Linked DNA regions of Homo sapiens. The protein of the gene in region 5 purifies or fractionates together with the protein of the main gene of each other region. This does not show direct contact. Each region holds a gene or a part of one and is shown on either strand. Other genes may lie near its edges.

Region 1 (3,500 bases), on a different chromosome or scaffold from region 5:
AGGTGTGGTGGCTCACTCTTGTAATCCCGGCACATTGGGAGGCCGAGGCAGGCGGATCATGAGGTCAGGAGATCGAGACCATCCTCACTAACACAGTGAAACCCCATCTCTACTAAAAACACAAAAAACATTAGCCGGGCATGGTGGCGGGTGCCTGTAGTCCCAGCTACTCGGGAGGCTGAGGCAGGGAAATGGCATGAACCTGGGAGGCAGAGCTTGCAGTGAGCCGAGATCGCGCCACTGCATTCCAGCCTGGGCAACAGAAAGACTCCGTCTCAAAAAAAAAAAAAAATTGATGCATGGTGGGGAACAAAAATGAACTGTCAACTCAGAAATCTGTTTTGAGGCCAGGTGCAGTGGCTCACGCCTGTAACCCCAGCACTTTGGGAGGCCAAGGCGGGTGGATCACCTGAGGTCAGGAGTTCGAGACCAGCCTGACCAACATGGTGAAACTCCATCTCTATTAAAAAGACAAACTTAGCCGGACTTGGTGGCGTATGCCTGTAATCCCAGCTACTCGGAAGGCTGAGGCAGAATTGCTTGAACCCGGGAGGCTGAGGCAGGAGAATTGCTTGAACACAGGAGGCAGAGGCTGCAATGAGCCAAGATCATGCCATCACACTCCAGCCTGGGCAACAAGAGCGAAACTCTGTCTCAAAAAACAAAAACAAAAATTAGCCAGGTATTGTGGTGCACACCTGTAATCCCAGCTACTTGGGAGGCTGAGGCAGGAGAACTGCTGGAACCCAGGAGGCGGAGGTTGCACTGAGCCGAGATCACGCCACCACATTCCAGCCTGGGCGACAGAAAAAGACTCCATCTCAAAAAAAGAAATTTGTATTGAATGAAAATATCCTTGGGAGGCCAAGGCGGGCAGATCACGAGGTCAGGAGATGAAGACCATCCTGGCTAACATGGTGAAATCCCGTCTCTACTAAAAATACAAAAAATTAGCCAGGCATGGTGGTGGGCGCCTGTAGTCCAGCTACTCGGGAGGCTGAGGCAGGAGAGTGGCGTGAACCCGGGAGGCGGAGCTTGCAGTGAGCCAAGATCATGCCACTGCATTCCAGCCTTGGAGACAGAGCGAGACTCCCTCTCATAAAAAAAAAAAGAAAAAAAAAAGAAAAAGAAAATATATCCTTCATGGCTGGGCACGGTGGCTCACACTGAAGCGGGTGGATCACGAGGTCGGGAGTTCAAGACCAGCATGGTGAAGATAGTGAAACCCCGTCTCTACTAAAAATACAAAAAATTAGTCAGGTATGGTGGCGGGTGCCTGTAATCCTAGCTACTCGAGAGGCTTAGGCAGAGGATTGCTTGAACCCAGGAGGCAGAGGTTGCAGTGAGCCGAGATCATGCCACTGCACTCCAGCCTGGGCAACAGAGTGAGATGCCATCTCAAAAAAAAAGAAAATAACCCTCATATAAACACAGGGCAAAACGAAAACATTTTCAGGTCAAAAAAACCCAAAGGTCTGTGACCAACAAACCTACCTACAACAAAGGCTAATGGATGTTTTTCAGTCTGAAGAGAAACAACACCAGACAGAAATAGTCTGGGGGAATCCATGGGAAAAGTAAATAAGGAAGAAACTGTGAAGATAAGCTAAGAAGTACATAATATGCAACTATCACAGTAAATGAAATATTTTGTGATTGGTTAAAAAAAGAAAAACTGTCATGGGAATCCTGGACACAATGCAGGTCAGGAGACCAGGGAGGAGCCAGGGATGATTCTTTGAGTCAACTGTAGTCATATCTACAATTCATACTTTTTTTTTTTTTTGAGACAGTCTCACTCTGTCGCCCAGGCTGGAGTGCAGTGGCGCGATCTCAGCTCACTGCAAGCTCCGCCTCCTGGGTTCACATCATTCTCCTGCCTCAGCCTCACCAGCAGCTGGGACTACAGGTGCCCGCCACCACACCCGGCTAATTTTTTGTATTTTTACTAGAGATAGGGTTTCACCATGTTAGCCAGGATGGTCTCAATCTCCTGACCTTGTGATCCGCCCGCCTCGGCCTCCCAAAGTGCTGCGATTACAGGCGTCAGCCACTGCGCCTGGCCACTCTTATGAAATACTTTTTTTTTTTTTTTTTTGAGATGGAGTCTCACTCTGTTGCCCAGGTTGGAGTGCAGTGGCACCACCTCGACTCACTGTAAACTCTGCCTTCTGAGTCAAGCAATTCTCTTGCCTCAGCTTCCCAAGTAGCTGGGATTACAGGCACCTACCACCACGCCCGACTAATTTTTGTATTTTTAGTAGACGGGGTTTCACCATCTTGGCCAGGCTGGTCTTGAACTCCTCACTTCGTGATCCACCCGCCTTGGTCTCCCGAAGTGCTGGGATTACAGGTGTGAGCCACCACGCCCAGCCGTGAAATATTTTTACACTTACCTTTGGGCTCTTGGTCCTATAATTTTGAGCAGTGATCAGCTGTGACAAACATCTCATCCTATAGCAATCCAACCCAACTGTGATAGAGAAAGGCAATGCAAGAGGCAATTTGGGAATAGGGAAAATAAGAAAACGAGGAAAAGAGAAAAGGTATCGATGGCAGTAAGAGTAGAGGATGAAAAATATCCTGAGGGTCAATACCCAGGCCACAGATACCTTTTTCAAAAATGTTGCTGCTGTTTCTCTCTTTGTTGCTGTGATCCGCTTCACTCCATCCGGGGACTGGACACGAATTATCTGTTGCAAACAAAACATGATGGTTACTGCACAGCCTAGTGAGGTCCTGATCTAATACTACGGCTTCCATCTGTGGTCTTTTAGCATCTGGGTCACTGAAAATTAAAGCCAAACCTCACTCTTCACCTTTCAATACCCAGCTCAATCCTTCTAGAATATGATGCCGAGGGGTGAGATTCATCAACATATGGGGAGATATTTTAAGAGTACTGTCCTCTCAACTCTTAGTTTCACTCAGAAAACAACTTTAATTCCTAATCACTATTTATAGAGTATATGTAAAACACTTTTTGTCTCTTCAGACTTAAAACAGAGAAAAACCCACCATGAACCATGAATGAACTGTGTTCTTTAAAAAAGATGTTACTTTGGGGAAAAAAAAAAAAAAAAGATGTTACTTTGTTCCAGGATCTATATACAAACATTAGACAGTCTTCAAGAGTCCTACAATTTAAAAGAATCACAGGAAATTTTCTAATTGTTACTTTTTTTTTGCTTTTTTGAGACAGGGTCTTGCTGTCACCCAGGCTGGAGTGCAGTGGCAAAATCACAGCTTACTGCAGCCTTGACATCCAAGGTTCAAGTGATCCTCTGACCTCAGCCTCCCGAGAGCTGGAACCACAGGCTTGCACCACCACACCAGGTTAATTTTTTTTTTTGTAGTGACGGAGTGTCATATTTCCCAGGCTGATCTCGAGCTCCGGGGCTCAAGTGATCCTGCCACTGTGCTGGGATTACAGGTGTGAGCCACAACGCCAGCTATTACTTACTTTCCCTAAAAAACGTTTAAAAATGGCCAGACACAGT
Region 2 (3,500 bases), on a different chromosome or scaffold from region 5:
CTGGATCAAGTGTTAGTCTGCGTTGCTCAGTTTTCTCATGTGTAAAATGGTGATAAAAGCTACCTGCCTCATGGGACTCTTGAGAGACTTCAATAATGTATGCAAAACATTTAGAACACTGCCTAGCACATAGTAAGCATTATCTGTAAGTATTAACATTTATCTCTACTACAGTCCAGATTCACTTCCTTGTGATATTTCTCTATTCCTCTTGGACTCTTTTCAGTTCAACCTGCTTCTGAAATTTCCATACCAAGAAACAATGATAATGTTAAGAATTTTATTTCTGAAATTTATCTTGGTTAGTCAAAACTACTAGAACAAATTCTCTTTTACGTACTAGCAGTTATTAACATTTCACTAAATATGAACATAAGCATTTAAAGTATGGGAGCAATGGAACGAATGCCAAGCAAAAAGCAGGCTATCAATAAGGATGCATACGTGATACTTCCATGTTAAAAAAAGGGAGGAATCATATGGTCACGTGGATGTTTGTCTATGTGTCAAACGGCTCTGAAAAGTTTCACAGCGGTCTACTGAGCGGGAGAACTGTCTGGTGGAAGGGATATGAAGGAGACTTTTCACTGTACATGCTTTGTTATCTTTCAAATCCGAAGCAGCGAATGCCTTACCTAGACAAGAATTTAATTTTTCTTTTTTTTTGAGACAGAGTCTCACTCTGTCACCCAGTCTGGAGTGCAGTGGCACGACCTCAGCTCACCACAACCTCCACCTCCCGGGTTCAAGTGATTCTCCTGCCTCAGCCCCTCTCAAGTAGCTGGGACTACAGGCGTGTGCCACCATGTCTGGCTAATTTTTTTTGTATTTTTAGTAGAGACGGGGTTTCACCATGTTAGCCAGGATGGTCTTGATCTCCCGACCTCGTGATCCGCCCACCTCGGCCTCCCAAAGTGCTGAGATTACAGGCGTGAGCCACTGCGTCCAGCCAAGAATTTAATTTTTAAAATGGGGGTGCAAAGGGGACTTTAAATAAGTACTCTGGAAGCCAGGTGTCAAGTCTCAATTTGCTACTACCTGTGCTATCTTGGGCAAGTCACTTAACCTCTGAGTCTCAGACAAAGCAAAGAGCAGTAAATACTTCTAGGTTCTTTTTTTTTTTTGTAAGACAGAGTTTCCCTCTTATTGCCCAGGCAGGAGGGCAGTGGCACAATCTCGGCTTACTGCTACCTCCACCTCCCGGGTTCAAGTGATTCTCCTGCCTCAGCCTCCCGAGTAGCTGGAATTACAGGTGCCCACCACCATGCCCGGCTAATTTTTTGTATTTTTAGTAGACAAGGGGTTTCACCATATTGGCCAGGCTGGTCTCAAACTCCTGAACTCAGGTGATCCACCCACCTCAGCCTCCCAAAGTGCTGGGATTACAGGCGTGAACCACTATGCCCAGCCCTAGGTTCTATTCTAATTCTAAAAGTTTTATTATCTCAATGGGGTAGTAAATAGATGGTACTTTTTTTTTAAGATATGGGAGAGGTAGTAATCCGACATTTTGTAAAATAAGGCAACTTTTTTATGGACTTGATTTTCAAATGCAGTGGACCCTTGAACAACACGGGTTTAAGCTGTGTGTGCTCACTTATACGTGGATCTTTTTCAACCAAATGCAGACCGAAACCTGCATATATGGAGGCCCAAATTTTCACATTCAGGTTCTGCAGGGCCCACAGTGGGGACTTGAGTATGCCAGGATCTCAGTAAAAACAGGGGTCCTGAAACCAATCCCCTATGGTATATGTTCTATACATAGACCATAGGACAACCAGACTATTTTTACAGTTTTAAGAAACATAGATTTGTCAAGCCTATTAACCTTTCCAGATCATTTGTACTATTCTTACATAGAAACCCTTCTTAGAGGGGGTCTTATATATAGAAAATACCTACATAGAATATTCTGCATATTACAGCTGGACACGGTGGCTGATGCCTATAATCTCAGCACTTTCGGAGGCTGAGGCAGGCAGATCACCTGAGGTCAGGAGTTTAAGACCAGCCTGGCCAACATGGCAAGACCCTGTCTCTACTAAAAATACAAAAATTAGCCGGGCATGGTGGTGGGCACCTGTAATCCCAGCTCCTTGGGAGGCTGAGGTAGGAGAATCGCTTGAACCCGGGAGGTGGAGGTTGCAGTGAGCTGAGATCATGCCACTGCACTCCAGTCCGGGTGACAGAGCAGCGAGACTCCATCAAAAAAAAAAAAAAGAATATTCTGCATTAGTTTCTCTTGCACAACTTCAAAATTGTTTTAAATGAACACATCTTTATACTATGCTATAAAGTCAGCAATAAACTACATTAAAACAATTAATGTTTAAACATATAAACAAGTATGTACAAGAAACTTATACTTAAAGGCATTTATTATCAAACACTGGAAAAAAAAGAACATCTCCAATCAATGGTAACAGCTATAACTGAGGACAGGCTTTATTTCAGGAACATACATGTATCACTTTTCATCGTAACACTAATCTGGCAAAGTAGGTTTTTTTGTTTTTCTTTTTTTGAGACAGGGTCTCTCTCTACCACCCAGGCTGGAGTGCAGTGGCACCATCATGGCTCACTGCAGACCTCAGCCTCTCAGGCTCAAGTGATCCTCACACCTCAGCCTCCCAAGAAGCTGGAAATACAGGCATGCGCCACCATGCCCGGTTAACGTTTGTATTTTTTGTAAAGACACGGTTTTGCCCTGTTGCCCAGGCTGGTCTGAAACTCCTGAGCTCAAGAGGTCTGCCAGGTGTCAGCGTCCCAAACTGCTGGGATTACAGGTGTGAGCCACTGCACCAGGCCCTAAGTAGGTGTTAAAAGCCCTATTTAACATAAGAAACTGAGGCACCATGAAGATAAGGCCACAAGCCTAAGAACTGGGAGAGGTGGAAGCCCACCCAGATCCCTTAGATTTGAGCTCAGTGTACCAAACCAAGGGGGCAGGGACTGCTAACTGAATGTTAGCTGGCAGGCTGGTGCAGGTTTGCAGCAGAGTTTTCACCGATTTATGGGAAAATGGGAAAAAGTAAGGACACGAAAGTAAACTTTTTTTTTTTTTTTTTAAAGACAGAGTCTCGTTCTGTCACACAGGCTGGAGTGCAATGGCGCGATCTTGGCTTACTGCAACCTCTGCATCCCAGGTTCAAGTGATTCTCCTGCCTCAGCCTCCCGAGTAGCTGGGATTACAGGTGCATGCTACCACGCCCAGCTTGTTTTGTATTTTTAGTAGAGACGGGGTTTCAGCATGTTGGCCAGGCTGGTCTGAAAGTAAACTTTTCCATATAGCTAAATGATTCCATTTAAAAATATTTTATTCTGAGAGATTCTGTTCTTTCAAATTGTTTGAATGGAAATATCCTTTTGTTAAATGAAATGATGGTGACAGGAGATAGTGGTGTGTTATTGTTTTTACTGGCTGTACATGGTAGAATTGAAAAATCAGCATTTCTATTGTAGCCTACTAATTTCGGTGAAATATTTCTTTAGAAATA
Region 3 (3,500 bases), on a different chromosome or scaffold from region 5:
ATGTTCAAAAATGCCATTGTTTTTTACATTGCTGCTATGAATCTCTCGAGAATACCTCCAAGTGTCGGATAATCAGAGAGATTCTTAGGCAAAATAGAAGAATTTCAAGTCTCAGAGTGAAGGTATCACACAAGGTTCATCTCAGGGTGAAGGCATCATGTAAATTACTAAGCAAAAGGCAAAGCACCACAAGACATAAGCACAAAGCATTTTGGCACACAGACAGCCACTGCAAATGGTGAGTCCAAAATGGACACTGAGAAGGCACCAGTGTAAAATGAGGATACCATGTGCAGGTTTCATTGGAAGTGCTCTTATTTCTCCAATGAACATCCTTATTAGAAACCAAGGTGTTCATTACTCTAATAAGAACATTAATGAATGTCTCTAGCATGGCTGGCTCTACCTTCTGCCTTGCTGATTGTTAGGAATAGCAAGTCAAGTCACTTGTGGCATAGCAGACAGAGAGATTGCTGGAAAGAATTAAGATGAGAAACTCCATCCTCCCCCAAGCCCCTCATCATCAGTAATGAGCCCCGTAGAGACTTAGGGAACCCTTGCTACATAAACTGCTGAGTTTTCAGGAAATAAAATAAGGAGACCCTGCCACCCTCTCTGTGAGATTTTCTTTGACTTTATCTGAAGTGCTAGGTACTAGTACTTCCCCAGGAAATATGTTGAAACAAGGGCTGCCCAAGCCATGCCCTTAGAAGGGAAGTGGCAAGGTTGGGATCTTTCTGCAGGTTTTCTTCTTCCCAAATGCAATGCATGAATCCGAATCTGCTGCTCACAGATTCCCAGATATATGCAGGAAGATACTACGGGAGTCATGTGAGAGGGAAAGGCACATATTGCAGGGTATTTATCCCTAGTCCTCCCACAAGGCAGCCAGTTATGAGAAGCATATAAGAAGATGAGAAAGAACTATATAGGCATGGTTGTCCTCTGGCTGTAGGTCAATGAAGCTTCTGGGCACACAGCAGAGCATCAGGAAGTCACCTGGGCTTCCTTTTAAAGTAGAAATTTATAATAAAATAGCTCAGCTTTTAAGAAGACTCAAGTCAACCTGAAGGGGTTTTCAACAAGTAACACTACCACCACCACCACCAAAAGGACTTATTAGCTAAGACCTGTGTGTGTGACATGATACTAGATGCTCTGTATCATGTACTTGGTCCTTACATTTTTCTGATTCACAGCTTGTAACAGAAACCTGTGTACCTGAAGACAGTGGAAAACAAACAGATGAGGTAACTTCATGTATCAATTATGAAGAAAAAGCTGAAAAAAAACCATAAATCATGCCAGCCAGCCCTAAGCCCTCATTTACTATGAATTTAGAGGACAATAGTCTAAAAATCCAACATTTTCAATGACAAAAACAGCACAGATCTGCACTGAAGAAATAACATACTACTTTATCCTTTTAAATGATCTTAAATTTAAAAACTAATACTATTACAGGAAAGATTTTTATTGGATCACTTCCCCCCAAAAGAGAACAAAAACAAAACAAAAAATTCATTTACACCAACACAAGACGCATGCATATTTAAAGAAGTAGATACGTGCAATTTTTAGCAACATGCAGTCAGTTTCAACATTCTTATACCTTAATCTTTGGTTCATCCTTTAATTTGTCCCTTTCTGGAATTCTGTCTATCTTCTTTAGCTTTTCTATATCTTTCCTTTTTCGTTTCTCTTCTTCTTTCCATTTCCTCCTCTCTTCTTCTCTTTGTCTTTTTCTTTCTATTTCTCTCCTCCTCCTTTCTTCTCTCTTTTCTTCTCTCATTCTCTAGAAAGAAACATCAACACAAGCCTTCAAATAAAATAATCATCACCAAAACCCTAATAAATCCTGAAGTCATGGTAGGCCCCAACTGAATAATCTTTCCTTCCTACTTTCTACAAAGTGGCATTCTACCACCGTTATCCCCACTCCACCCAGAAAACGAAAGACAATGAAGACCAGAACCTGCTAATATTATTCTTCCACTGCTGCCTTACTATCTCTCCAGAGGCTTTCAGAATATCAAATGAGTGTCTCTGGGACAACCTAAGAACATTCCACGTTTGTAGAGTGAACTCCTGGTCCAACAACCAGAGTGAAGGAGCAGGCTAGAGAGTGAGACCAAGAAGGCAAATCCTTAAAGAGTAATGGTGGAAAAAGCAGCTATTTCTCCTCTAGAAACCCAATGCTCTTAAAATGTTTATAGAATGCAAAGCAAAGAAATTAAAGTATTGAGAGAACTATAAAGACAAAAGATTTACCTGCTTGTTTTTCAGGAAGCTCAAAAGTGGGGTTGTCTTTTTAGCTACATAAATGTAAACAGATTATTAATCATACTTATCAACCCCTAGAAACGATTCCATTTTCTGACATTCCCTGCCAACCACCCAAGGTGGGAAAACATGTACACCCCTTATGCAGAAAGATCACAATTGTAATATCAGAAAGAAGTTTTACAGCATTCGATTTCAACAATACGGGATTAAAATACCTTTTAAAAAGTAAAGAAATTCAAATTAAAACAACAAAATAATTTATTAAAAGAGTCATTCCCAACTGATGAGAATTAAGTACTTAGGACATTCTCTTGTTTTACTGATAGGAGTGTAAACTTGTTCAACTGGAAGAAGTTGGGGGGAAGGGGCTAAAAATATCTAATCCTTTTGACCCCATAATTCCACTTCTGGGAATTTATTCTAAGAAAGTTACCAGAAATAGGCTTGTACTATCCATCTATTAATAAAAGTCAAGTTTTGGAAGAATATTTTTCATTTTCAACATTCTGAATAAGCTATTGGCCTTACAGCCATCTTAAAACACATATTCCTGGCCGGGCACAGTGGCTCATGCCTGTAATCCCAGCACTTTCAGAGGCCAAGGCAGGCGGATCACTTGAGGTCAGGAGTTCGAGATCAGCCTGGCCAACATGGTGAAACCCCGGCTCTACTAAAAATACAAAATTGGCCGGGCGTGGTGGCGGACACCTGTACTTCCAGCTACTCGGGAGACTGCGGCAGAATCGCCTGAACCCAGGAGGCGGAAGTTGCAGTGAGCCGAGATTGCGACACTGCACTCCAGCCTGGGCGACAGAGCAAGACTCCATCTCTCACACACACACACACACACACACATACACACACACACACACACACACACAGAGAGAGAGCGAGCGAGCAAGCAAGCAAAAAAAACAAACAAACAAACAAAAAAACCCCACATATTCCTTAGGATAAATTCCTGAGTAGAAATCCTGGGTCAAAGATTATGCTCATGTTTAGAGCTACTGATACAGTAGTGACAGCCTATTACTGAGAACCAAGATCCAAGCTAGAATTCCTCAAGTAGTTTTCAATTTTGCAGTAACTAATTTCATTTTTTCGTATTTTCAAGTCAAAATTTTTTTAGGAATATGAACTTATTACTAGAAAATACCAATTGACCTTCAAAGGCTTACCACTGTCTAAACATTCCTTATCAGTCATCGAACTTT
Region 4 (3,500 bases), on a different chromosome or scaffold from region 5:
TGATAACAAGTATGGATTTCTATTAAAAATATTCAATAGCATTTCACTAACGTCAATGACATCACTTTTATTTTCAATTTTCTTCTTCAATAAAATTATAAATGGTTTACAGTACTGGAAGTTTCATTATTTATTTTAATCTAAATTAGTTTTTTCCCTTTCTTTGAGAATTTCAAAATATGAAGAAAAAATGTTTAATACAGTGAACAATTAAAATAACAAAATAAAGACAAGCATTAACTGCTTGACTAAGAGTCAAACTTACCTTAGCAGCATTGTAACATGGTTTGTTTGTAGTTTTAATTCTTTGATTGCACTTGCAACAGGGTCTCCTTGAGCCTGGGCTTCTTTCACAATTAACCCAATTTCTGTCCAATCTATCTGGTTAGCTAAAGCACTTCGAACTACCTGAATGGCTCTGTCAACTATTTGTAGGTTCATTTCTATGAGCTCTCCTTTCAGTTTGTCTATTTCCTTAAAAAACAAACCACACACATTTACTACATTGCCAGTTAAAGTTAACATTTTTGAAAAAGCACTGAGAAAGCCAAACATAATACCTGAGCCTGCTGAAGAGCTTCCAATCTGTTTTCGTGATCCTTTCGAACATTATCTAATTTCTTCAATGCTTGCTTTTCCTTTTATTGGCAAAACAGATTTTTTAAAAATTAGATTTCTCCTACCTCATGACATCCCTCTCTTACTTCCCAACACTCACTATCCTGACCCCATCTATGCTGTTATCTAGCTAGCTGAAGTTCCCATAGTCTACCACCCTAGGCCTATCCCACTACAATGCGTTCCATGCCCCAAAATTACTTCTCCTGTCTTCCTAACTCCCACTCCTTATATAGAAAGGTATTTTGATTACAGGTTACTGTGTATATAAGATATACCCCTAATACCCTTGGCATTATTCAAACAGGCAGAAATCAAGACATTTTTTCCTATGGCACAAAAGTAAAGTTTGGGAGAACGAATTCTTTATTTTTTTTTAAATAATAGAGACCGGGTCCCGCTATGTTGCCCAGGCTGCTCTCCAATGTCTGAGCTCAATCCTCCCACCTTGGCCTCCCAGAGTGCTGGGATTACAGGCCTGAGCCACTGCACCTGGCAGGGAATGAATTCCCAAAGAGCATAAATTACCAAATGACTTTGTATTTTTTGCTACTTTTGATTTTCTCACAACTATTTCCAGTATTTTACAGAAACTTTTTCCCCTAAATTAATAAGACAAAGGCTCATGGTAGTTATTTGGCATTTTATCATATATACTTTACATTTCAAGGTTATCAATTGGGGGACAAAATTTCTAACACTAGTAATATCATCAATTAATGAGTATTTAAATGCTAGATGAAATATTTTTTAAAATTTAGATAAGAATGATGACTATTAAAACCCACAAAATAATTACCAAAATAAATCACTAGTATTTTGACACCCATGAAACCATGGGGTTCAGTTTACTAGCCAAAGTGCTGCCACCATGTGGTAATTACATGATGTATATAATTCATCTGACTGGCCTACCTGCTTTGAAATTGTGCTATGATTAACTAATTTTTAAAAACTGAAGAGGAAGTGGTACAGGGATTCAAACAATTTGATTTTTTTTTCTTTAAGGCAGAGTCTCACTCTGTCACCCAGGCTGGAGTGCAGTGGCACAGTCTCAGCTCATTGCAACCTCCGCCTCCCAGGGTCAAACAATTTTTGTGCCTCAGGCTCCTGAGTAGCTGGACACCCATACCACACCCCATTAATTTTTGTATTTCCAGCAGAGACAGGTTTTCACCATGCTGGCCAGGCTGTTCTTGAACTCCTGACCTCAAGTGATCTGCCCGCCTCGGCCTCCCAAAGTGCTGGGATTTACAGGCGTGCGCCACCGCGCCCAGCCTCAAATAATTTGAAATTTTTGCACACATATTTTAAGACTGTTTTTGAAAAAATCAAATCCCCTTCAAATCAAGAGTGACTATTAACAATTTATGAAACTGTTCTGCAGCAAATGCTCTAAAAACATGGTCAAATGTGCTGGGAAAATACTGTATATCACTTCTTTTGGAGTCATGATACACAGAAAACATATTAAGACTTGGCTTTAAAGTCCATTTAAAAAAGAAACAGTTTAATGATAAACAATATCCCCTCCTCTGGCCTATTTAAAATCTCCCTAAAACAGTATCTCCTTAACAGCAATGTTTGAGAAGCTTTGGGTTGTTCTGAGCAAACCACATTAAGGTGTAAATAACAGGCCTCACGTTCCCACCGTATTTTCCTTTTTTTACAGAATATCTGAAATACTCATGAAACAAATGAGGACATACTTTTCAACAATAAAATCCCCCATGGACCTTCTTCATAAACCTTTATCATAAATAAAGAGGCAGGTCAGAGAGTTCCCATACTACTTCTTACACTCTTTCTGAAAGGCTACCCTTTCCTATATCATCTACCCATCAAGCCGCTAAAGACTAGCTGGTTTAATATGTGTTTTTAATAATACATACCTGTTGTAAAGCTTTTAAGTCAATTTTCTGGCCTTCTATCTTGGAATAAAATTCATCCACCGCCTTATTAAAAAAACAAACAACTAGTTGGAAAAAAAAGCACAGTCTCTACTTCAACTTGCATACACAGAATTTTATTTTTTTTTTCTTTTTTTTTGAGACAGAGTCTCACTCTGTTGCCCAGGCGGGACTGCAGTGGCGCGATCTAGGCTCACTGCAACTTCCACCTCCGAGGTTCAAGTGATTCTCCTGCCTCAGCCTCTCAAACAGCTGGGACTACAGGTGCACCCCACCACACACCGCTAATTTTTGTAGTTTTTCAGAGACAGGGTTTCACTGTGTTGGCCAGACTGGTCTTGAACTCCTGACCTCAACTGATCTGCCTGCCTTGGCCTCCCAAAATGCTGAGATTATAGGCATGAGCCAGCAAGCCCAGCTGCATACACAGAATTTTAGATTCCATTGTGTTTCATAACACCACTCAAAGAACTTGAACAGATTTCCGGTAAATGTATTATATGGCTAAACAGTATCAAGAATCAAATGAAGTTCAAACCTCTGGTCCTTCATCCTGAAATAAAGTGGCAACAATTATTTCCAACAGCTGTATCTGTGACGACACTGATCTTTAATGCCCAGATTCACAGTGAATGTAAAGCAAGTATAGTTTCAGTTTCTCAATAGAAGCAAGTTGATATCAACAGCTCATATCATGCTAACTAACTGGTAAAGGAACAGAACGGAAAACCCACCTTGTCAAATGATTCAAATTCTATATATGGACATTGTGAATGTTGAGAAAACAAGAAAGGATGAAATTCCTCATACCTGTAAAACATATTTATTATATCACATTCGAGAACATTAACAAACATCCAAAGCAAATTGACCCATGCCTATATGCTTACGTCAGTATGTCTTCAACTGGTTTATCTGCTTCCAAGCTTGGTTTTATTTCTCTTTTCTGAATGATATATCCCTACAAAAATG
Region 5 (3,500 bases):
CTTCGACTCCTGCCCGCCAGTCATTCCCAGTAGGGGCAGCTTTCCAAGATGCAAGCCGGGCGTGTCCCTTCTCTGAGTGCCTGCATGCCTGCCTCGGCTATCTATGCCATGAGCTTGGCATTCAGGGTCAAGTGCCCTCTGCCTGAACGCTCTTTGCCAGATGTCCCTGTGGCGAGACCTCTCCCCTCCTCCCTGTCCCTGCTCACACGTCAGCCTGTCAATACTGCCCACCCTACCACCTATTTAGAAACTGCCGCCCCTGCCTGGCCGCCCCCCTCCCCTCCCCTGTCCCCACCCTGAGGGGCTTTTCATTGTTCTTTTGCCCATCTTCTGTAATGTACTTATTTGTTATTTTAATTGCTTGCTGTTTCCTTTGCTGGAAGGAACATCAGCTCCAAGAGGGCAGGAAGCTCTCTAGAGCCTGCATTGCTACAAGGGCAATGCCATCTTCAAGCAAAACTGTCTGATGACCGATGCTTGACCCTGAATGCCAAGCTCATGGCATAGATAACCTCCTCTTGTAGACGCTTATCTAACCTCCAGTGGTCACCAGGTTCATAAGAACCACCTGCATGGGGTTCACCCTAAAAGCTTGCTATATAGAGGGTTCTTTCTAGAGGGCGTGTGAGGGGATGTCCCAACTCTTGGCTGCCTGAGACATGGTTTTTTTGTTTGTTTTTGAGAGAGTCTTGCTCTGTTGCCCAGGCTGGACTGCAAAGGCACAATCTCAGCTCACTGCAACCTCCGCCCCTGCGAGTTCAAGTGATTCTCCTCCCTCAGCCTCCCAAGTAGCTGGGATTATGGGCACCTGCCACCACACCCAGCTAATTTTTGTTTTTTTTTTTTTTTTTTTTTTTTTTTTTTTTTAGTAGAGACGGGGTTTCACCATGTTGGCCAGGCTGGTCTCGAACTCCTGACCTCAAGTGATCCGCCCACCTCAGCCTCCCCAAGTGCTGGAATTACAGGCGTGAGCCACCGCACCCGGCCCTGAGACATGGCTTCTGTTTATGAGTCCCTGTTAAGTGTTTCCTTCTGAGAAACTGGATCTGTTAGCTTCTTTCCCTCAGCCTTTGGGGGTAGGTTTGCATAGACCTGCTCACCGCAGGCACTGCTGTTTGTGAGTCTGCAGTAGGTGCTCCAGAAATTCTCACTGTGTGCGTGAAGGCTGGGGAAGGGAGGAAGGGCATGGGACGTGGACAGAAAGGCTCAGGGACCCTGGGGGCTCAGCATGAGGCTGACCTGGACAAGGGTAGGCATAGGCCCTGGGGAAGCCACCAGAACAGAGGGGCCGGGCTGCAGCCTCACCTGACGATGTCCACCAGCGCGGTGAGGAAGGGCTTCACTTCGTAGCTGAGGCCGTGCTTGGCACACAGCGACTTGACCAGCGGGGCCACCCGGCTGTAGTTGTGTCTCGGCATCCTGGGGAAGAGGCTGGGGGTGGGGAGCGTATGCTGGCACCTGAAGTGGGAGATTCCAGAGAGAGGCCCCACCCACGGGTCCCCTCCCAGGATCCCCTCCCAGGACCCCCTCCCCACCTCCCACTGGCCCCCAGCACCCACACTCACTGGTGCTCGATCTGGAAGTTGAGGTGCCCGCTGAACCAGTTGGTGAAAAGTGAGGGCTCCACGTTGCAGGTGGCTGCCAGCTGCCGGAAGCCGGCGGGGCACATGTGAGGAGGCCGTTGCAGATCCCTGACCCCACGGCACCATCCCCCACCTGGCAGCCCCGTCAGGGCCTCATCCCTGCTTTGCCATCTGGCTCCTAGCTGGGACCCCCCACCCCACCCAGGATGGGCCCCACCCCTGCTGCCCACCTGAGAGCTGACCCAGTCCCGGTGCTTCTCGTGGCCGATCTCCTTGGGGATGTGGTTCATCTGTGTGATCCACACGAACCAGTGGCTTTCCAGGACCCTGTGGGGAGGCTCGGGCACTGCCCTAGGTCCAGCTCACCACTTAGGCACCCTGAGTGGAGGCTGGAGAGCAGCTGTCCCCAAGTGGCCTTGACTTCCTTATCTGTACAATAGGATTGTGGCCATCGCCCCCTTGCCAGTGTTTAAAGAATCTGAATGGAGCAGTGTCCACTGTGAGGCTGAGTCCAGAGCAGCTCCGACACCCACCGGGCCACTTACAAGCCAGGCCACGCTCCCTAAACCCACCGACCCTGGGCTCCTGCCACGCTTGTGTTTATGTGATTCCACCAGCAAGCCAGGGAGGCAGTACCACTGGCCCCATTCTGCAGACGGGAAAAGGGAAGCTCTGGTGGGGGGCTGCAGTGGGGGTCACCTGTCGCCTGTGTGTGACCTCGCCACTCCCTGCCATACCTGACAGCAACAAAGAAGAGCAGCACCCCAGGGACGCCGTAGAAGGGGAGGTAGGATAAGAAGAAGCGGGCATAGAAGCTGGCGGCCCAGAGCAAATCCTGCAGAGGAGGGCAGAGGCGATACCGAGAGGTCTCCAGGTGCCCGGAGGTCTGGAGGCCTGGTGGGTGGGAGGAGGACCTCAGGCATCCAACCCTTCTGCCTGATTTGCCTCAGAGCCCAGGACAGGCCACCACCCTCTCTGGTTTTCTCAGCTGAGTAAAGGAACAGGGTCCTTGCCCTGCCAGCTCACGAGGCTGATTTTAGTGACGAAGGTGTCATGCAGGGTGTGTTGGGGAAGACCCTGCCAGGGACACAGATGCCTGGCAGAGTCAGCCCAGCAACTCCTCCTGGGAAGACACCCTCACCGAGAGAGACCCACACCCCCCCTGTTCCTCAACCCCCCCCCACCACACGTACAGTCACGGGCACACTCGCTCTCCTGCTGCGCGCACACATGTGAGCCACACTGTTGCACGCATACATGTGAGCCACACTGTTGCACGCACATGTGCACCCTGTTTGCCTTCATGGGCAGGTACTGTCCCCCGAGGCACCACCTCCTGCCACGGCAGCCGTATGCCCGGGGTCCTGGGCAACCCCACTCACCGCCCACTGCATGCACACCAGCATGTACGCCAGATTTTCCACTTCAAAGTTCACCAGGGTGAGCAGCGGCGGGCCGACTGCAAGAAGGGGCATGAGAGTGTTCAGGAGTGGGGCTGGGCTGCCAAGGTGAGTGGGCGCCAGAGTGAGGGGCTCTGTTACTCCAGGAATGCCCCTGGGACGTTGGTGCTGGTCACATCCAGCTGAATGACCCCATATCACCCCCAATTCTGTGTCCAAGCCTCCCCAGGCTGCCCTTACCCCACCACCTCCCACCACCCTTCACCGCAAGTCAGGGCCAGACTTGAGTCCTCACTCTGTCCGCCCCAACAACTGCCCAAAGACTCTAGGGCTCCGGACCACTCTAGTGAGGGCAAGAAGAAATTCTACGTGGGGCTTGGGGAAGCTCCCAGCAGGGCTGTGATGGCCCGTGGCTGCAAGGTGTCCCAGGCACGGGAGACAGCTGGGGCAAAGGCATGCTGCTGGGAGAGTGTGTACAGACTGCAGAGGCTGGGAGGATGCCATGACCAGGGAGACC
Region 6 (3,500 bases), on a different chromosome or scaffold from region 5:
AGCACAGCATAAAAGTTCAGAAAATTTGCAACCTAACCATGAGGTAGAAAAGAAAAACCTATTTCTTGGGGGGAAATTCAAACCTGCTGCAGAAATTTGTATAAGTAACAAGGAGCCAAATATTAATAGCCAAAACAATGGGAAAAATGTATCCAAGGCATGTCAGAGACATTTGCAGAAGCCCCTCCCATCACAGGCCCAGCGGCCTAGGAGGGAAAAATGGTTTTGTGGGCCTGAGTGGCCCTGCTGCTCTGTGCAGCCTCAAGACATGGTGCCCTGCATCCAGCTGCTCTAGCTCCAGCCATGGCTAAAAGGAGCCAAGGTACAGCTCAAGCCATTGCTTCTGAGGGTGCAAGCCCTAAACCTTGGCAGCTTCCATGTGGTGTTGGGTCTGTGGGTACACAGAAGACAAGAAGAGTTTAGAAGACAAGAGTTTAACCTCCACCTAAATTTCAGAGGATGTATGGAAACACCTGAATGTCCAGGCAGAAGTCTGCTGCAAGGGAGGAGCCCTCATGGAGAACCTTTGCTAGGGCAGTACAGAAGGAAAATGTGGGGTTGAAGGCCCCACACAGTCCCCACTGGGGCACTGCCTACTGGAGTTGTGAGGAGAGAGCCACTGTCCCCCAGGCCCCAGAAAGGTAGATTCACTGACAGCTTGTATTGTACAGCTGGAAAAGCCACAGGCACTCAATGCCAGCCAGTGAAAGCAGCCATAAGGACTGCACCTTTCAGAGCTACAAGGGTAGAGCTGCCCAAGGCCATGGGAGCCTACCCCTTGGATGTGAGATATGGAGTCAAAGGAGATCATTTCAGAGCTTTAAGATTTAGTAACTGCACTGCTGGGTTTCAGACTTGCATGGGGCCTGTGGCCCCTTTGTTTTGGCCAATTTCTCCCATTTGAAACATTTAGCTAATGCCTATAGCCCTACTGTATCTTAGAAGTAACTAACTTGTTTTTTATTTTATAGGCTCATAGGCAAAAGGGACTTGCCTTGTCTCAGATGAGACTTTGGACTTGGACTTTTGGGTTAATGCTGGAATAAGTTAAGACTTTGGGGGACTGTTGGAAAGTCATGATTGGTTTTGAAATGTGAAAAAGACATGAAATTTGGGAGGCGCCAGGAGTGGAATGATATGGTTTGGCTTTATATCCCCACCCAAATCTCATCTTGAATTGTAATCCCCATGTGTCCAGGGAGGAACCCGGTAGGAAGTGATCGGATCATGGGGGCAGTTTCCCCCATGCTGTTCTTGTGATAGTGAGGGAGTTCTCAAAAGATCTGATGGCTTTAAAAGTGGCAGTTTCCCCTGCTTTCTCTCTCTCTCTTTCTCTCTCTCCTGCTGCCTTGTGAAGAAGGTTATCTACTTCCCCTTCACCTTCTGCCATAATTTTAAGTTTCCTGAGGCCTCCCCAGTCATGTGGAACTGTGAGTCAATTAAACCTCTTTCCTTTATAAATTACCCACTCTCAGGTATTTCTTTATAACAATGTGAAAACAGACTAATACAATACCTATCATTATTGACTTCTCAGCTTCTATCATTATCAAAAAGTAAATAATTGATTCATTTTTTAAAGTAAACAAGATTTTAACTCTTGAAATGTATAAGCAAATACATTTCCTCCATAACAGAATACTAATAGTTGTATACTTAGGTCAAAAATAAGTTTTTATAAGCAATGCTCAAAAACCTCAATGGATCAAATATGTTATAAAAATTCAGCAAATTGATAAACCTTGTTATTTGACTATGAGAACAAATTTTAACTCATTTTTAAATTGTGATAAGCCAACTCATTAGTCTGAAAATTAGAAATTAATATATTACATTGATTTATGTCATCTTTAAAGTCACTTTAACTCACTCTCAGTAGCACAGTGTTTTAAGTCAGAAAGCAGTGAAATAAAATTGTCAATTCACTCTTATTTTTCTATTCTCACTGAACTTTTAAAAATTTTTATTATATATTCAGCAGCATTAGAATAAGCAAAGCCAAAGGCATTTTATGGGACTCAAAAGACATAATGACCTCTGCAGACACCAGTTAAACAATAGACAGAAGAATTTGATTCCTACTTCGATGCTAGGTTTAGCAACCATTCACACAGATAATGTCCATGTTTTTCTTTCTTTTCATTTCACCAAGACCTTCACTCCTCAAAGCCTAAAATATATCTAAATCTTGGATTTCTCTTTTTTGCTTCATCTGACAACTTGAAAATTGACTGTTGGACACATAGCCATCAAGTGGTAAAGTGGGTAACTGGAAAAGTTCTAACTTGTTTTACATTTTTCAAACCCTATTATAATAAGAGCAAATAATAATACTAGCTCATATTTATTCAATGCTGGTCTGTGATACAGACTACTAATAAACTTAGTTTGCAAATAAAAACACTCAAGTTTAGGAAAAATATGTGACATACGCAAGGTCTCACAACAGGTAACTTACAAAGCTGGGATTCAAATCCAAGATTGACTAAAACCATGCTATACGTCTTTATTATATACTCTCTTCCACAGAAGAAAATGACCCATTAGTTGCTCTTCTATTTCACAACACAGCTTCCCTGAACATACTGGTGGAAAAAAAAAAAACAGAAATTGGCTATGTTCATTATCAACTTTTTTTTTTAATAACTTTCTTTTAAGACAGGGTCTCACTCTGTTGTCCAGGCTGGAGTGCAATGGCACGAACTCAGCTCACTGCAACCTCCACCTCCCATGCTCAAATGATTCTTGTGCCTCAGCCACCAAATAGCTGGGACTACAGGTGTGCACCACCACACCCAGCTAATTTTTTTATTTTTAGTAGAGGCGGGGTTTTCGCCATGTTGGCCAGGCTGGTCCCAAACTCCTGGCCTTCAGTGATCTGCCCACCTCGACCTTCCAAAGTGTTAGGATTACAGGCATGACTCACTGCACTCAGCCTCATTTATTAATTTATTCAACAAATATTTACTAGCTCCTTAAAACTCTCATTTGAGCTTAAATCCTTTTAAGTATTTTTGAGTATCTGGCATATGCAATGGACTGAATATATCCCCACAAAACCCACATGTTGAAATCTTAACCCCCCAGTGTAATGGTTTTAGGACGTAGGGCCTCTGGGGGGTAATTAGGTCATGAATGTAGAGCCCTCATGAATGGGATTAGTGCTCTTATAAAAGGGATTTCCCAAACCTCTCTCATTCTCTTTCCACCACCTGCAGATACAATGAAAAGACAGCAGTAGTCTTTGACCTAAAAGAGGGCCCTCATCAGAACCCAAACATGTGGGCACCCTGACCTTGGACTTCCAACCTCCAGAATAGTAAGAAATAAATTTCTGTTCTTTATAAGGCACCCAGTCTATAATACTTTGTTACAGCAGCCTGAACAGACTGAGGCAGAAACTGGTGCCAAGAATTAGGGGTGCTGCTGTAACAAATACCTAAAAAGGTTATCTTCATTTATTTTTCACATAACCAAGCAAAATATGTGAAACAGTAAAC
Region 7 (3,500 bases), on a different chromosome or scaffold from region 5:
GAAAACTAAGGCCTTGCAAGCCTATGGCTTCACCCAGGGGTAGGATCAGGCACCTTAACTCTAGAGCCCATTCTCCTAACCACTGAGCCATGATTGTCTTACAATTTTGATACTGCAAAACTGGAAGAATTGTCTGGCTATTATCTAAGCTGTTCATAAGCTGAACAAGTAGATCTGAGGGTAAGAGGAGTTCTGTTTTAACTAGACTGAGTTTCAAATAGAGATGTTTCAGACTATAGAGGGGGAAAAATGGCCTGGGAAGATCATAAATCTAAGCCTGTTTCATTGATGTTTTTGTCATTTGCATCCAGTAGCTATTCAGCAAATATACCTATGGCAAAAAGGATATAAGTTATGGGTATAACTGAAATAATCCTGGGTTTAAAGCAAAGCTCTGATAAATACAGACGATGTTTCTCCAGGTGCCAGAAGATATGTTGAAGTTTGAGCTCAGACTGACCAAATGCTAGTTATGGGGTATGTGATAGCTCCAAGGTAGTAATATAAAGGCTATTTTAATTAGAAACTTTTGAGTAAATGGCCCTCAGGATAGTGATTTCTGTTTGAATGTCACTAACCTTTTTTAGTTACAGATCCCTATAATAATGCTTGAGTCTAGGCAGAACAACTTTGTGTTTATTCTTTGCAAAGGGTAGGGTAGTGCTAACAACCTGCTCTTCATTTGCTTTTTCTCCCCTTTGCCGATTCAGAATGCTGCTTTGTCAATTTGTGTGCCTGCTGTAGGAACTGGTCCGTTTTCCAAGTGTGACAGTGCAGGCAGAGAAGGGTGGATGAGCTGTAAATGCAGCCTAGAACACATTTGATTATAGAGAATGAAGCACTAATATCCCAATATAATTGGAGTTTAAAAAAAAAAAATACCACCTGGGCATCAATGTGTTTCCCTGCTTTGCATTTTCCCAGAACTATTTCTGCAAACATCAGTTTCCTCAGCCAACTTAATATTGAGTCACCAGAACGGAAATCAGCCATATTACTTCCTTATTTGTGTTGAAAATTGGAACAGAATGGAAATATTTCTTCCCTCAGAAGTTGGCAGGAACGGCAACAAGACAATCTGTTAGGGGTGACAGCTATAGGCTCTTCTCTTTTTTAAAAATAATATAGTCAATATTCAACATGGTTTTCTGGGGTAAAATCATCCACATTTCTGATTCTTTATGATCCTAGCAAAGCTTACATTCTGTATACCTGAAAGATGAAAAAGGAGTTGGATTAAACTTGAGTCTTACACTTATCTATTACATTTTTATTTATTAATGCTGAAGAAAGGTAATATAGGCTGGGCGCGGTGGCTCACGCCTGTAATCCCAGCACTTTGGGAGGCCGAGGCAGCCAGATCACCTGAGGTTGGGAGTTCAAGATCAGCCTGTCCAACATGGAGAAACCCCGTCTCTACTAAAAATACAAAAAATTAGCCAGGCGTGGTGGTGCATGCCTGTAATCCCAGTTACTTGCGAGGCTGAGGTGGGAGAATCGCTTGAACCTGGGGGGTGGAGGTTGCAGTGAGCCGAGATCTCACCATTGCGCTCCAGCCTGGGCAACAAGAGCGAAACTCCGTCACACACACACACACACACAAAAAGGAAAGGTAATAAAAAATTTTATCAAGTAACTTCATCCACAAACATAGTATAGCCCTTTTTAACTGATAAGAAGAAGGTGACACTTTGGTTTTCCTTTTTGAAATCTGTTCTTGGGTTTCAAATGTCAGCTGCTACATTAAAAACAGCAGGCATAATATATATATATATATTTTTTTTTCCAAATACAAATGCACGTACTCTTGTGTCTCCCATGGCATCTAATATACCTGCCTTAATGACCTCAGCCCACTTAACTGATTTGGTGAACAATTCTGCATCTGAGGCTGTATATGTGAGGAAAAATTAAAGGATTGGAAATGAAAGTAAAATAACTATAGTATAAAGGATCATATGTTCAAAGCATGCAGGCCTAATATTATAGGAAGTCCCAAACATATAAGTGAATTGCATTCCTAGAACTGACACATTTGTCTTTTCTCTGTTGCATTCACAATATAATTACATTTCAGTCACATTGTCTTAGATACAGTTGGCTGTTTCTGGGCTGTCTTTCAAGCTGGTTTGTAAATTCCTGAGGGTCTAGGACAGTGTCCTAATTCTCCTTAGCAACTCTTGCACCACCTACTGTACTTCATCTTCCACGATGGATCCTTGACCTAGCTGAGCTGTAGTTTTAAAGTCATTAGTCTAGAATGAGCAGAATGGTCATAGTCAATGCAGTTTGTGCTGCAAGTAGCAGAAACCCATTCAAGCTGACTTAGCAAAAAGGAGACTTAGTGTGAGGAAATAATAGTACCCTGATACCAAGGATGATTTGTTCTTCCCTCACTATTTTTTTCTGCTTTGTCACCTTCTTGGACACGTATCTTTGCCAGTGTTTTCTCTCACAGCTGCTGAACAGCCTGTTACCTGCAAATGGGTTATATCCGTTAGTCTTTCAAATCAGAAGTCCTCTGTGTTCAGGATGTACATGGTATGAGTGAAGTGCCCAGTATTAACTGGATGTGTAAGGCTATTGTGCAGCCTCTTTCTCTTGTGGCTCAAAATCAGTGTGCCAGGTTTCTTCTGCCATGTTTGGCCTAAGAGCAGTTTAAGGGAGTTTATAGTGTTTTCCTAAATCCTGTCTGGTAGGTAGAGGCAAATGGCTATGTCTGTACAACACAAGAACCACAAATCTTGGCCACATGGGCAGTTTGCTTGCCACACTCCACTGTGTAAGGAAGAGACTAGAGATCTATGATGAAGATTGCCTGGCAGCCACAGACACAGTTCAATAACTTTTTGTGAACTTAATCTTTTTTCTCCTGCCTAACCATTTCCGCATTTATTACGTGTTTGCACATTCATCTTCACTTTTGTGGTTTTAATTTTGAGTAAAATTTAATAAAGTTGTTTCTTTTTTTAAAAAAAAAAAAGGGTCACAGGAGTGCCAGGAAGTAGAATTCTATCAGGCACCAAAGCACCATGTATGAGTCTCTCTTTGTCTTTCTCCTGCTCCTCTTCCTGTCTTCCCACTCTCTCCCTTCCCCATCCCTCTTGTCCTTTCTTACAGCTTCTCCTTGTATGTGGCCCAAACCTGACTGCCTCAGCCCCCACATGCCTCCTTTTCCTCAAATGACCCTGACCCACAAGGGTCTCAATTCCAAGTTCCAAGAACAAAGATTCTATTAGCTTACTTTGCCAATAGGTTGTCTTCCTCCTAGACCCAAGAAGATAGGGATAGGGCTCAAAGAGGGGAGCCGTTGGGTAAGTAGATCACGACAAATCTTCTCTACCACAAACTGAGGACACATACAATGTCATATCATGGTTGGGATCCAAGCTCAGTTTACAATGCCTATATGCTCCATAATATTGCAAAATATTTGCAATGAGAAAAAGAAAAATGTGAAATTTTAAATTTAAGATTAAAACTGCATAATGGTGTCCCCT

The links.
Region 1: the proteins of FADS3 (region 5) and NPLOC4 purify together in Homo sapiens (affinity purification with mass spectrometry; one large-scale study listed by BioGRID and IntAct). This does not show direct contact.
Region 2: the proteins of FADS3 (region 5) and VKORC1L1 purify together in Homo sapiens (co-immunoprecipitation; one large-scale study listed by IntAct). This does not show direct contact.
Region 3: the proteins of FADS3 (region 5) and UPF3B purify together in Homo sapiens (affinity purification with mass spectrometry; one large-scale study listed by BioGRID and IntAct). This does not show direct contact.
Region 4: the proteins of FADS3 (region 5) and NEMF purify together in Homo sapiens (affinity purification with mass spectrometry; one large-scale study listed by BioGRID and IntAct). This does not show direct contact.
Region 6: the proteins of FADS3 (region 5) and PEX7 purify together in Homo sapiens (affinity purification with mass spectrometry; one large-scale study listed by BioGRID and IntAct). This does not show direct contact.
Region 7: the proteins of FADS3 (region 5) and MFAP3 purify together in Homo sapiens (affinity purification with mass spectrometry; 2 studies listed by BioGRID and IntAct, with this or other methods). This does not show direct contact.

What each region holds. Positions count from the first base shown.
Region 1 is NC_000017.11:81,627,113-81,630,612, forward strand, and holds part of NPLOC4 (nuclear protein localization protein 4 homolog), read right to left. Parts: intron 2,694-3,500; coding exon 2,613-2,693; intron 1-2,612. UniProt on the Homo sapiens protein: The ternary complex containing UFD1, VCP and NPLOC4 binds ubiquitinated proteins and is necessary for the export of misfolded proteins from the ER to the cytoplasm, where they are degraded by the proteasome.
Region 2 is NC_000007.14:65,876,074-65,879,573, reverse strand, and holds part of VKORC1L1 (vitamin K epoxide reductase complex subunit 1-like protein 1), read right to left. Parts: intron 1-3,500. UniProt on the Homo sapiens protein: Involved in vitamin K metabolism. Can reduce inactive vitamin K 2,3-epoxide to active vitamin K, and may contribute to vitamin K-mediated protection against oxidative stress.
Region 3 is NC_000023.11:119,839,464-119,842,963, forward strand, and holds part of UPF3B (regulator of nonsense transcripts 3B), read right to left. Parts: intron 2,316-3,500; coding exon 2,272-2,315; intron 1,796-2,271; coding exon 1,613-1,795; intron 1,222-1,612; coding exon 1,183-1,221; intron 1-1,182. UniProt on the Homo sapiens protein: Involved in nonsense-mediated decay (NMD) of mRNAs containing premature stop codons by associating with the nuclear exon junction complex (EJC) and serving as link between the EJC core and NMD machinery.
Region 4 is NC_000014.9:49,828,789-49,832,288, forward strand, and holds part of NEMF (ribosome quality control complex subunit NEMF), read right to left. Parts: intron 3,490-3,500; coding exon 3,419-3,489; intron 3,339-3,418; coding exon 3,263-3,338; intron 2,574-3,262; coding exon 2,511-2,573; intron 639-2,510; coding exon 561-638; intron 475-560; coding exon 266-474; intron 20-265; coding exon 1-19. UniProt on the Homo sapiens protein: Key component of the ribosome quality control complex (RQC), a ribosome-associated complex that mediates the extraction of incompletely synthesized nascent chains from stalled ribosomes as well as their ubiquitin-mediated proteasomal degradation.
Region 5 is NC_000011.10:61,874,546-61,878,045, forward strand, and holds part of FADS3 (fatty acid desaturase 3), read right to left. Parts: intron 3,043-3,500; coding exon 2,966-3,042; intron 2,419-2,965; coding exon 2,321-2,418; intron 1,911-2,320; coding exon 1,814-1,910; intron 1,646-1,813; coding exon 1,566-1,645; intron 1,459-1,565; coding exon of another isoform or gene 1,432-1,458; coding exon 1,306-1,431; intron 1-1,305. UniProt on the Homo sapiens protein: Mammals have different sphingoid bases that differ in their length and/or pattern of desaturation and hydroxyl groups.
Region 6 is NC_000006.12:136,829,092-136,832,591, reverse strand, and holds part of PEX7 (peroxisomal biogenesis factor 7), read right to left. Parts: intron 1-3,500. UniProt on the Homo sapiens protein: Receptor required for the peroxisomal import of proteins containing a C-terminal PTS2-type peroxisomal targeting signal. Specifically binds to cargo proteins containing a PTS2 peroxisomal targeting signal in the cytosol.
Region 7 is NC_000005.10:154,041,967-154,045,466, forward strand, and holds part of MFAP3 (microfibril-associated glycoprotein 3 isoform 1 precursor), read left to right. Parts: intron 1-3,500. UniProt on the Homo sapiens protein: Component of the elastin-associated microfibrils.